Homo sapiens: one gene and its partners. The protein of the gene in region 2 purifies or fractionates together with the protein of the main gene of each other region. This does not show direct contact. Each region holds a gene or a part of one and is shown on either strand. Other genes may lie near its edges. The genes, in order: MCCC2, DNAJC4 and CACTIN.

Region 1 (3,645 bases), on a different chromosome or scaffold from region 2:
AGAAACATAAGCATCTCTATGAACTAAATGTGCTACGCAGAGGGAAACTTGTATCAATGACAGCATCAGTTCTTAATCACATTCACAAAAAACTTGCCCTGTCTTTCTAAACTGTTATAGAGCCTCGTTCTCCAAACCCCCAATGCAGCCAAAAGGATTCATTGCCCCAAACCCATCAGGCTTTCCCACCTCTGTGCAAAATTCTTCTCGAAATGGTTAGAACCTTCTCTCCTTTGAGGACCAGCTAAAGCCCCAGAAACATCATAAATTCTTAAAGAGTTAAGGTGGAAAAGTATCTTTCCTTCTTCTAAACCAATACAAAAGCCATCCACAGAATTCATATAATAATTTATACATATTGCCTTCTGATACTGTTTTCATTGCAGATTGGAGTGGTGGGTACACAGGTCAGTTGCGTTCAAAGCAGAGCTCATGACTTCACAGCTGTGTGATTATAGGTGTGTTTCCTAGCCATCCTATGCCCCGGTTTCCTTACCCACGAAATGAAGATAAAAAAAGGAGCCATATCATATATTAGGATGACTTGAAAAATGTATAGAAAGCACTTAGTTCAGAATCTGCAACCATTAAGTCTTTTGTTGGTTGCACATTATATGCTGTGTCCAATTCATTATGAGCTCGCTGAAGACAGAGACAACAAAATCCTCCTCACTGTATCCCCTATAAAGACCAGCACAGCACCTACAAGCAGCTGGGCCTCATTTGCTGTTTTCTCTACGTGCAGAGCAGTTCGTATTGTGAGTTAATCAGGTAAATTCAACTTCACAGAAAAACACAAAACAAAAAATACCTCTACATCAGTACCCGTTCAAATACCTGCATACATGAACAACGTATGTTGGAATTTTATCAGACTAACCCAGTATCAGGAAAGGCCCATTTTTTTTTTTTTTTTTTTTTTTTGAGACAGTCTCTCTCTCTGTCGCCCAGGCTGGAGTACAGTGGCACGATTTCAGCTCACTGCAAGCTCCGCCTCCCAGGTTCACACCATTCTCCTGCCTCAGCCTCCCAAGTAGCTGGGACTACAGCTGCCTGCCACCACGCTCGGCTAATTTTTTGTATTTTTTTTTAGTAGAGACGAGGTTTCAGTGTGTTAGCCAGGATGGTCTCCATCTCCTGACCTCATGATCCGCCTGCCTCGGCCTCCCAAAGTGCTGGGATTACAGGCGTGAGCCACCGCGCCCGGAGGAAAGGCCCATTTTAAACTGCTTTGCTTTCAGGTTCTTTGATTTAAATGTGTTTTAATTTCAAATATAAGTTTACTTTCACTGGAAATTAAATTTACTTTAAATTACATCTGCTCAAATTATATAATACTTGCACATTTAACTCAGTACCTGGCACTCAAGAGATCTATAAATACTTGCTACTATTTTTTTCATAGTATGATCCATAAAGTTAAAAGAAAAACAGGATCTAGAGAACAAAAAAAAAAAACCACACAACACATAGAGAAAAAAACTGGCATGCGTCAAAATGTATGAGTATTATGCACTAGTACTATGAACAGTTCTTGTTTACTTTCCCCCAGAGTTTTCAGCAAAGAACCTGTGTTTCCTTTATAATTACAGGAGAAATCAACAGGTTTATAAAATACCCATCCCAAATGTAATACATACAGCCTTCCAAACTATCTTGCATTTTACCAGCTAATAATAGTTTATTTTACCACTCTGGTGACTTGCCTAAGTAGATGCAGGGGAGCCTGTTTTGCATGGCAATTTCTTGGGCCCGTAATTGTTTTTTCACAGTCACTGGGTAGTAGGCACCTCCTTTGACGGTGGCATCATTGGCAATAATCATGCATTCTACTCTGAAAGGCAGAAATTTCATTGGAGAGAGAATTTAAGAGATTTCTTCAAAACTAATTACACTCATTACAAGATACCCCAATACAACCTTCAACTTCTAGTACGTATCACTATTAACATCCATTAGCAGACAGCAGTCTTAGGATATAAATGCAAACTTTAATCACAGTTCACATATTAATTTATATAATACAAAACAATTACTTCTAACAAGTTTATAAACTCACACTTGGTTTTTGAAAAGTCATCAGTCCTAGATTAGTAATAAAAAACTAACAACCTAAGCCTTGTGTCATAATGGTTCTTTGAATGAAAAGGTCCTAATAAGATGAAAATAATAATGAAAAAAAAAATCCAAGTCTCAAGGGAAAAGAATTCCCTCATAATAAACCTTCAAAGTCTCCTTTTAGGAGGGTATTTTGCAAAAATGAAAACTGACCTTTAGTACTAAGATTTATTTTTTGTATTCTTGTTCTTCAACATTACAGCCCCATGGTTTTCTACAAAACTAAATGTAGTCTAAAATATAACGTTCATCTTAACTGAAGTCAGAATGAATGCAAACTTTAATATACTAAAAACACATGAAAGGTATCCTGAGTCATCAACAGTGCCCTTTCTCACCAAAACCAGTTTATTGGGTATGAGTCACAAAGAGCAGGGCGGCCAACAACCACAGCTGGTTGGGGAAACTGTACAGCACTGGCAGGAAACCTTAAGGTCAGAGGTACCCTTGAAATCTGAGATGACAACAGTGTGCTCTTTACAAAATTCAATTTTCTTTATGTTTCTGATGTTTGTGTTACCTCACTTTATGCTGCCTACAACTCTAAAGAGTGAGTCATTAAATCCCTGCTGAAAATAGAGAACGGCAACTGAACACCCAGCACAGGGTAGTGTTGAGCTTCTCATACTAGGATATGTGGCCAGCAGGGCTCGCCACAAGACAAACAGGACTCTTCTTTGAGCATCAATTTTATTCCCTAGGTCATATAAAACCTTTTTCTGCACTGCAATGAACATTTTATAGAGTAGAATGCAAACTTTTAATGATTTAACATTAAACGAACTAGACTTCAAAGGAAATGTAGGCTTCTCATAGGTTGCTGGGCCATAACCTCACACTCCAGAGTGTGTGCTCATACTTCCTACCACTGGGGGTGCTACGCTAGAAAGTTTAAGAAGCTCTGGTACTGGAAAGAGGCCAGGCTGTGAAGTCAGACAAAGTTAGACTGAAATTCTGGCTCTGCCAACTTGTTAGTTATGTGACCATGGACAAGGGACATAGCCATATCTGCTTGTCTATTAAAGGTCACAGACTTGTTACAGAATGAGAAATCAAATTGGCCCACAAAAATACTAGATTGCATTTCTATTGGTTTTGCCTACCCAGCATCTATTATTTTGGCAACAAAACTAAACCTTCTTTCAGAAACTGCCTCTTATCTTTAATCCAGGTGGCTCAAGTAGGACTGACCCCAGAGCCTGCCTTAAAGGGGGGCACAGGGACCAGGTCTTTCTACCCAGAGTTCCCACTGAGGCTCGGCAATGGGACAGGCTCTAAGCCTAAGCAGATCTTGCCTTCCACTGCAGCTGCTAAACTTATAGAATATAAACCAGGAACTGCCTATGACCATCACTGCCTCTGGATTTAGAGAGGCTGCCTAGAAACAAAGCTGACACACAGCAAGTCAGGGCCAGGAGTAGAAAACAGCCTGGGACCTAGTAATACCTAAGACCATTTGAGCTCCCAGATACAGCCATGCCCAGACTCACCAGATAAGAGAATCAATATATCCTCTTTTTTGCTTAA
Region 2 (3,745 bases):
CTGGGGCCCCTGTGGCCTCACGCTGTGAAACTGGGACCAGTACTGTGCGTTGGGGGGTGTCCAGGAGCTGCTGGGAGGCAGAGGAAGGGACATTGTGGAAATGAGACTACCCAAGAGACCTGGGGGTGGGGCAAGCTGAGGGCAGGATTACTGTACCTGTGTGTTTGGTGGGCAGACTTGTCATGGACTGTGGTTCGTGGAGACTTTGGGGGACTACCTGAGCGGAGCTGGTCATCATAGCTGCGGCGGCTCTGCTCACGGCTGAGCACACGGTATGCCTCGCTCAGCTCCACAAAGCGGCTGTGCAGGCTTGGGTTCCCAGGGTCCCGGTCTGGGTGCAGCTGGGGTGGGGCAGGACTCCCCTTATCTCCCTTTGCCTGTCCCTCCCCAGGACCCATGCTGATGACATCCACCCACCAGGGCTCCAGTCATACCCAGAGGCCCTGCCTGGTCAGTGACCCTCACTCAGGCCTGCCCACTCCTCAGAAGGCCAGAGAGCATGGACTCCTGCTTCCTCCTGTGTTCAAGCCCTCCCCACCTGCCAGCCCCCTGCATTCACCATATGCCCTGGTCCAGGTTTCTCAAGAGCAGGCAGGCAGGTCAAGAAAACCAAGCCCAGCCCATCAGACAGGACCCCTGGCTCCTGCCCACAGCCTTTCCCCTACCATTGAGCACCTGCCACTCCCTATGAGGGCTGAAAAAATGTGGCACCCGCCAGAGATGCTGGTCTACTCCTGGGAATTTGAAGCACACCCCCACTGGCTCAAAGTTCCTGCTCCCCCTCCCCACCTCAGGGGTACGGGTACCTCTTTGGACTTGGAGAAGAAAGCTCGTTTAACTTCCTCAGTGCTGGCACCAGGATGCACCCCCAACAGTTCATAATAAGTACTGGGTCTGGACCTGTGGACAGAGTCCCAAACCTTGCAGGGGCTGAAGGAACCCAGAAGCTAGCTCTGCCCTGCCTTCTGGGCCACACCCTTCAACTCAGCCACCAGGAGCTGACAGGGCTGAAACAGGTCCCAGGACAGATCTGTCTCCAGATCAGCACCCCCTTTGGAGTGTTTCAGGCATAGTGCAGGTCAGGATTTCTCAAAGTGGAGTCCAAAAACTTGTTGGAAAAAACTGATTCCTGGACAGGCGCGGTGGCTCACGCCTGTAATCCAGCATTTTGGGAGGCCGAGGAGGGCGGATCACCTGAGGTCGGGAGTTCAAGACCAGCCTGACTAACATGGAGAAACCCTGTCTCTCCTAAAAATACAAAATTAGCCGGGCGTGGTGGTGCATGCCCGTAATCCCAGCTACTCGGGAGGCTGAGGCAGGAGAATCGCTTGAACCCGGGAGGCGGAGGTTGTGGTGAGCCGAGATTGCTCCATTGCACTCCAGCCTGGGCAACGAGCGAAACTCCATCTCAAAAAAAAAAAAAAAAAAGGAAAAAGAGAAAGAAACTGATTCCTGACCCCCACCCAATTGATTCCTCCAGTTCAGAATCTCCAGAGCAGAGCCCAGGAATCTGGATTTTGTACCCGACACCTCCCCATCTCCCACCCCCCACAGAGGGTTATGCACAGTGATACAGCGATGCTTGGAAACCACTAGAGCTGTGGTAAGAGCGTTGGGTTTGACCTGGACTCAAACTTCCTCCTCTGCCGCTTAAATCGGTGTATGACCTTGGGGGTCTTCTCTATCTCTGATCCTCAGCAGGGAAGGCGAGGGTTACCTGAGACAAACCTGGGAGCCTCCTGACACGGAGTAGAGACCACAACTAACTCAGCACGTAGGGCAAACAGAAACCCATTGAACAACCGGGCCGGCCCCCCGCGCCCAACTCACCGCTGCCCGGCGGCCGCTCCGAGGAGCCGGGAGGGAGGGTTGCGGGGCCACAGCCGGCACAGGCGCAGGGGCAGTAAGGGCGGCATGGCGGCGGGCGGGCAGCTGGGAAAGGAGGCTACCAAGAGCGCATTGGACCAGGATGGGGCTAGACTTCAAGCACCCGGGGGCAGAGGGAAGGGGCCTGGCCCGTTGTTCTGCAAAGGAAGACTGAAGCAGGCCCGGAGAGGGGGCGGTTCTTGCCCAGGACCAGACCCGCGTGTCCTTGGACCTGCCCCTTCCTCTGACCCGGGCATCCGCAGCCCTTCCCAGCGCTGGCTTCGGGGTCTGGCCACCCAGCCAGGGACCCCAAGACCCCGTTCCCACCCAGGGAACTTGGGGACGGGAGAAGGAGGGGCCACAACCAGGCCCCGCCCCCGCTGCTCACAGACCCGCGGCCGTCGCCATTTCCTGCGTCTATTCAGGCCCCGCCCTCACATTCTCATTGGCGTGGATGCCAAGACCACGTCCACCTGTCAGGAAAAAAAAAAAAATCGGTGGAGACCCCGCCCCTACATGTCTATTGGCCTTTGGTGCCTCCGGTCCCCCAGCCTGCGGACTCGCTGGACAGGCGCGGGCGCCCACCTGGGGAGCGGGCGGGACAGAGCCCGCTCTCTGCGGCTTTGTGACGTTTTCGGCCCGGCCACCGTGTCTCCGTTCCGCTGTTGCTCCCCTCTGCAGCGAGGTATATCTTACGGAGCTGCTTCCGCCCCGGAGCCTCTCTGGAGCCAGCAAAGAAAGGGAGGCACAGTTCTTATCCCCTGCTTGCAGAGGGGGACACAGGCTGGGCGGGTTTTTTTTTTTTTTTTTCCCAAGTCACTTGTCCTGCCTTACACACTCAGGGCCCATTGCTCCTCTCTGTTACAGAAATAGCAGATGCCAACGGAATCCAAGAATAAAGTCGTTTATTATTTTCAGAGCGGCGGGAGTAGGGCTGGGGACCCTAGGGCCGCTCCAGTGGGACTTCCCTGAACCCGGTTGTAGAGGATGATGGCGCCTTTGGCCGAGGGGCAGAGTTCAGCCCACATCTCCGTCTCGAGCAATCTCTGCACGTTCTGTGGGGAGACAACGAGACCCAGGCATTCAAGCTTGCCACTTCTCCTGCCAGGGCTGTGCCCAGAATTCCTGAGCCTCAGAGACCTCTGCACTGTCCTTAGGGAGGCATGTTAAGGGGCTGAACATGTCCCTGGACCTTTCCCTTGCACTGAGGGCAAATCTTGTGACTCTGGAGGGAATTGTGACCCAGCCAACACCTCCCCTACAAGATATGCATTGCCAGGCCTCTGCAGGCCCCAGCCCTGGCCTCCAAGCAAGATGGTTTGTCACTCTGCACCTGTGTCTCCACAAAGAAGATTCCTGTAGACTCGTGGGCCTCGGGTCCCCCACTCAGGTAGTGCTTCCTCACCTGCTCAGAAGTCAGGCTGCACCTGGACAAGAACACAAGGGTGGCTTAGTGGGTGACCAGCCCCTGCGGGGTACCTGTGGAGCCACAGCTGCCTCAGCCCACTCCTCACCACCCACCTTCCCAAGACCCAGGATCATGTACCCGAGCCTACTCACTGGACATAGAACTCGGCACTGGCTCGGCCAGCACTGGTCTCATTTCGGGCGATGCCCAACAGCAGGGGCTGGCTCAGGGTGAGCAGCGGCAGGTTCACCTGCGGTGGAGGGTGGGGTGGGGGGAGGTCCCACCTATCAATGCCACTGCCCACATCCCTGCCCGTCTCAATGAAAAACCGCCTGTTACCTGTGTACAGCATTTTATAGCTTGTAGATCAAGGACCCAGCATTACAGAATGTCAGATGATGGGCATGTTTGTTTTACAGGTACACCAAAACCAGAGAGATTGAACACGTTGCCCAAGGTCACCCAAGAGAA
Region 3 (3,645 bases), on a different chromosome or scaffold from region 2:
TCATGCCTTTAATCCTAGCCCTTCTGGAGGTGAGGCAGGAGGATTGCTTGAGGCCAGGAGTTCAAGACTAGCCTGGGCAACACAGTGAGACCCCATCTCTACAAAAAATTTTCAGAAGTGGCTGGGCACAGTGGCTCACTTCTGTAATCCCAGCACTTTGGGAGGCTGAGGTGGGAGGATCATGAGGTCAAGAGATTGAGACCATCCTGGCCAACATGGTGAAACCCTGTCTCCTTAAAAATACAAAAATTAGCTGGGCGTGATGGCGCGCGTCTGTAATCCCAGCTACTTGGGCAGCTGAGGCAGGAGAATCGCTTGAATCTGGGAGGCAGAGGTCACAGTGAGCAGAGATCGCACCACTGCACTCCAGCCTGGTGACAGAGTGAGACTCCTTCTCAAAAAATAAAATAGCTGGGTGTGATGGTGAGCGCCTGTAGTCCCAGCTTCTAGGGAGGCTGAGGTGGGAGGATCACCTGAACCCAGGAAGTCGAGGCTACAGTGAGCCTTGATCGCGCCACTCAACTCTCGCCTGGGCGACAGAGCGAGACCTTGTCTCTGAAAAATGAAAAGTAAAAGGAAAACCCCAATTAATTTAAGAAGATCCAGGACAGGGGCTCTGTGGGTCTCCAGGGGGACAGCAAAGTCAAGACCCCTCGGTTCCCTACTCCTGGAAACCATGTTGAAAGGAGAATCAGAAACAAACTCCCTCGGAAGACACCAAAGCCACCTGGGGTCCCCAACTGTAACGCGTGAGGGGAAAGGAGGGCTGAGCGACGTGGTGGAGGCAGAAGGCCATGGAAGGGATGGGAGAGGCCGGGGCCTAGGGCAGTGGGGCACGCTGGAAACGCCTCCCAGGCTTATAGGAGAGGCCGGGCCCAGGGCAACGCTGGAAACGCCTCCCAGTCTTACAGGAGAGGGCGGGGCCTAGGGCAACGCTGGAAACGCCTCCCAGGCTTCCTGCAGCCGGTGGGTAGGGTCTGCGGCTTCTGAAGGAAAATGTACTGCACCCAGAAGTCTTTGCCCAGCCCCGCTGCCACCAGCAGGAGCACACCAAGACCCTTAACGGACACACCTCTGATGCTGGAGAACTGCCCTGCCTCTCTGAGGTTACGGGAGAATGTGCCCCACGGAGGAGACCACTGGAGGGACAGGATGGCTGAGTGAACTCCACCTCCGGGGAACACAAAGCTCCACTGAAAAAGAGGAAAGCCACAGGCTCTTTCCTAGGAAGGACCTGCCACAGACCACGCTGAGGGCTGCAAATGACACTGACCCAGCCTCCTGGGATCCTCGGCCACCATGATGGCACCCAAGGCCTGAGAGGGAGGGCAGGGGAAGGACCGGGTCTATCGACAGGGATGCGTGGCCCATGAGAGCCAGGCACTGTTACAGCAGCCGCTGGGGCGTGGATTTTGGCGGGGAGGGGGCAGGGCTGCTGTGGTTGGCTTTTAGACCGGGGGGGGGGGGGGTCTCATCTAGGGCAATTCTGCCCCCAGGGGACTCTGGGCAACGTCTGGGGACATCTGCGGTTGTCAGGACTAGGGGTGCTCCTGACCCTGGGTGGAGGCCAGGGACGTTGCTCAGCACCCAGCAGTGTCCAGGACGGCCCCACCCTAGGGAACGGCCCAGCCCGCATGTCCGCAGTGCTCAGGGTAGACGCTTTAGAGCATCCCCGGTGACCATGTGTGTGCAACCACACGGAGGGGGGGGAAACGTGATTTTAAAAGCCCATCAGGTTGGAGGGGCACGAACTGACGCACGGGACAGGTAGCGCCCTGAAGCTGGGCTGCACGGCCTTCAGGCCAGGTGGAGCGAGACTTGCTGTCAAACAGGCAGAGCCACTGAGAGCACTGAAACCTGAGCGGAAAGCCCCGTGGCTCCCATAAGGCCGGCACCGCCGAGTCAGCGTTAACGGGACGCTGGGTCTGGACGCTGCTGGCCCTGCACCCCAGACAGAGGCCCGCCCCACTCATCCCTCCCAGGGCCTACTGCCCGCTGCTGCCCCCTGGTGGCTCGGCCCAGAAGGGGAGGCCCCAGTTGGGGAAACCGAGGCCTGCAGAGAGCACCAGGCCCCACAGCAAGTCTGAGGCTTCTGGGTGAACACTGTAGCCCCCGCAGCTCCCCTGGAGCCCAGGCCCATGCCCGCCGTTACCTGGCCCCTTGCCCGAGGCCTCCAGCTTGCGGAGCTTGGAGATCTCGTCCTCGGTGATGGTGGTCATGTCCCGCCAGAAGTCGGCGTTCTTGCCCTGCTCCAGCTCCATGTAGACCTGGGGGCAGGGGGCAGGGGTCAGGACACGGGTGTGGCTGGGGTGGGGGTGAGGGTGCAGGTCAGAGGAGCATCGGGTGGGGCTGGGTACCTGGATATCCTCCAGCAGGTCCTCCATGTCGGCCACGGTGAGGCCGTTGAGGAACGTGTAGGGCTCATGCATCTCCACGGCCAGATCGTCATCCTCAGCGCTGATGTACTTGGCCAGCAGGTCGATGGGCTTGGCCCGCCCGTCCCGGATGCGGATCTTGGAACTGTGGGGAGCAGGGGAAGGTGGCATCAGAGCCTGGGCTGTGCCCTCCATGCTAAAGACCCTGCCCTTGGGGTGACCACACCAGTGGGAGCCGAGGAGGGGCCTGACCCGTTGGGGGTGGTCAGGGAAGGCTTCCTGGAGGAGGAGGAGGAGGAGGCATAAGGTAGAGTGAGCCGGGTCAGCCAAAGGGCGCAGGCCAGCAGTGCAGACAAAGTGCAAGCAGCGTGGACCCGGAGGTGGGCCAGGTGGGAGGGGCTTCCTGGAGGGCCTCTGGGATGTGCCCAGGATGGCGGCTTCTATGTGGGCTGTGATGGGGAAGAGTGGAGGAGCTGAAGCAGAGGCAGGCTGGGGGACCAGAGTAGTCACTGCCTTGCAACCACCTCCTCCCCCAGGCAGACCACTCGGGGCAGAGAGCCGGGTTTCTGTTCTGGGCCTGCAGGGGGGTACGCGTTGCAGGCGGGCCCTGGTCCAACCCAAGGGAACCCGTCACCAGGGAGGCCCGAGCTGGGAGGAGCCTGATGTCACCCGCCACGGGGCCCAAGGCAAGCAGGGACACCCCGGAGCCTCAGCTTGTCTGTAAACCAGGCGGATGGGGGTGCCACCCTCCTGGGTGGAGTGTGGGAGGGACAACTGCAGTCAGTGCAGGACTGGCGTCCAGCATGCGTGGGGTGCCGTTCACCTGGGCCCGTCTCCTCTGCACCCTGCCCAGCAGGGGAGGGCAGGAGACAGAAGCCTTGCCGCCCGGGAAGGGGTCAGGAAGGGAAGGTCCCAGGAAGTGCCGTGTGGGACCCTGAAGGGTGGGAGAGCAGTGGCTTCCAGAGTGACAGCCAGTGCCCGGCCCTGGCTCCAAGTCTGGGTCGGAGGGAGGGGGAGGCCCCAGCGCACCGCAGCTTGGCCTGCTGGAGGTGGAAGTTGTCCTCCTGCTCCTCCCATGTCTTGAAGTGCTCTGCCTCCTTCTCGCGCTGCAGCATCTCCAGCTCCTGCTCGCGCATGGCCTTCTCCCGCTCCCGCTCCAGCCGCAGCTGCTTCACCTGCAGGCACAGGAGGCTGAGGGCAGCGGGGACCGTGCGGTCTGCAGGGCTGCGGGGGGAGGGGCTGTGATGATGGGGGCCCAGCCTTCACCCAG

What was found.
Region 1: the proteins of DNAJC4 (region 2) and MCCC2 purify together in Homo sapiens (affinity purification with mass spectrometry, with the first as the bait; one large-scale study listed by BioGRID). This does not show direct contact.
Region 3: the proteins of DNAJC4 (region 2) and CACTIN purify together in Homo sapiens (affinity purification with mass spectrometry, with the first as the bait; one large-scale study listed by BioGRID). This does not show direct contact.

What each region holds. Positions count from the first base shown.
Region 1 is NC_000005.10:71,600,695-71,604,339, reverse strand, and holds part of MCCC2 (methylcrotonoyl-CoA carboxylase beta chain, mitochondrial isoform 1 precursor), read right to left. Parts: intron 1,835-3,645; coding exon 1,707-1,834; intron 1-1,706. UniProt on the Homo sapiens protein: Carboxyltransferase subunit of the 3-methylcrotonyl-CoA carboxylase, an enzyme that catalyzes the conversion of 3-methylcrotonyl-CoA to 3-methylglutaconyl-CoA, a critical step for leucine and isovaleric acid catabolism.
Region 2 is NC_000011.10:64,229,026-64,232,770, reverse strand, and holds the start of DNAJC4 (dnaJ homolog subfamily C member 4), read right to left. Parts: upstream 2,224-3,745; 5' UTR 1,917-2,223; coding exon 1,831-1,916; intron 1,604-1,830; exon of another isoform or gene 1,401-1,603; intron 901-1,400; coding exon 807-900; intron 342-806; coding exon 157-341; intron 71-156; coding exon of another isoform or gene 68-70; coding exon 1-67. Other genes in the region: uridine diphosphate glucose pyrophosphatase NUDT22, read right to left, coding at 2,781-2,921, 3,200-3,293, 3,427-3,524.
Region 3 is NC_000019.10:3,616,723-3,620,367, forward strand, and holds part of CACTIN (splicing factor Cactin), read right to left. Parts: intron 3,551-3,645; coding exon 3,405-3,550; intron 2,521-3,404; coding exon 2,358-2,520; intron 2,268-2,357; coding exon 2,153-2,267; intron 1,194-2,152; coding exon of another isoform or gene 1,108-1,193; exon of another isoform or gene 1-1,107. UniProt on the Homo sapiens protein: Plays a role in pre-mRNA splicing by facilitating excision of a subset of introns. Required for the splicing of CDCA5/Sororin, a regulator of sister chromatid cohesion. Involved in the regulation of innate immune response.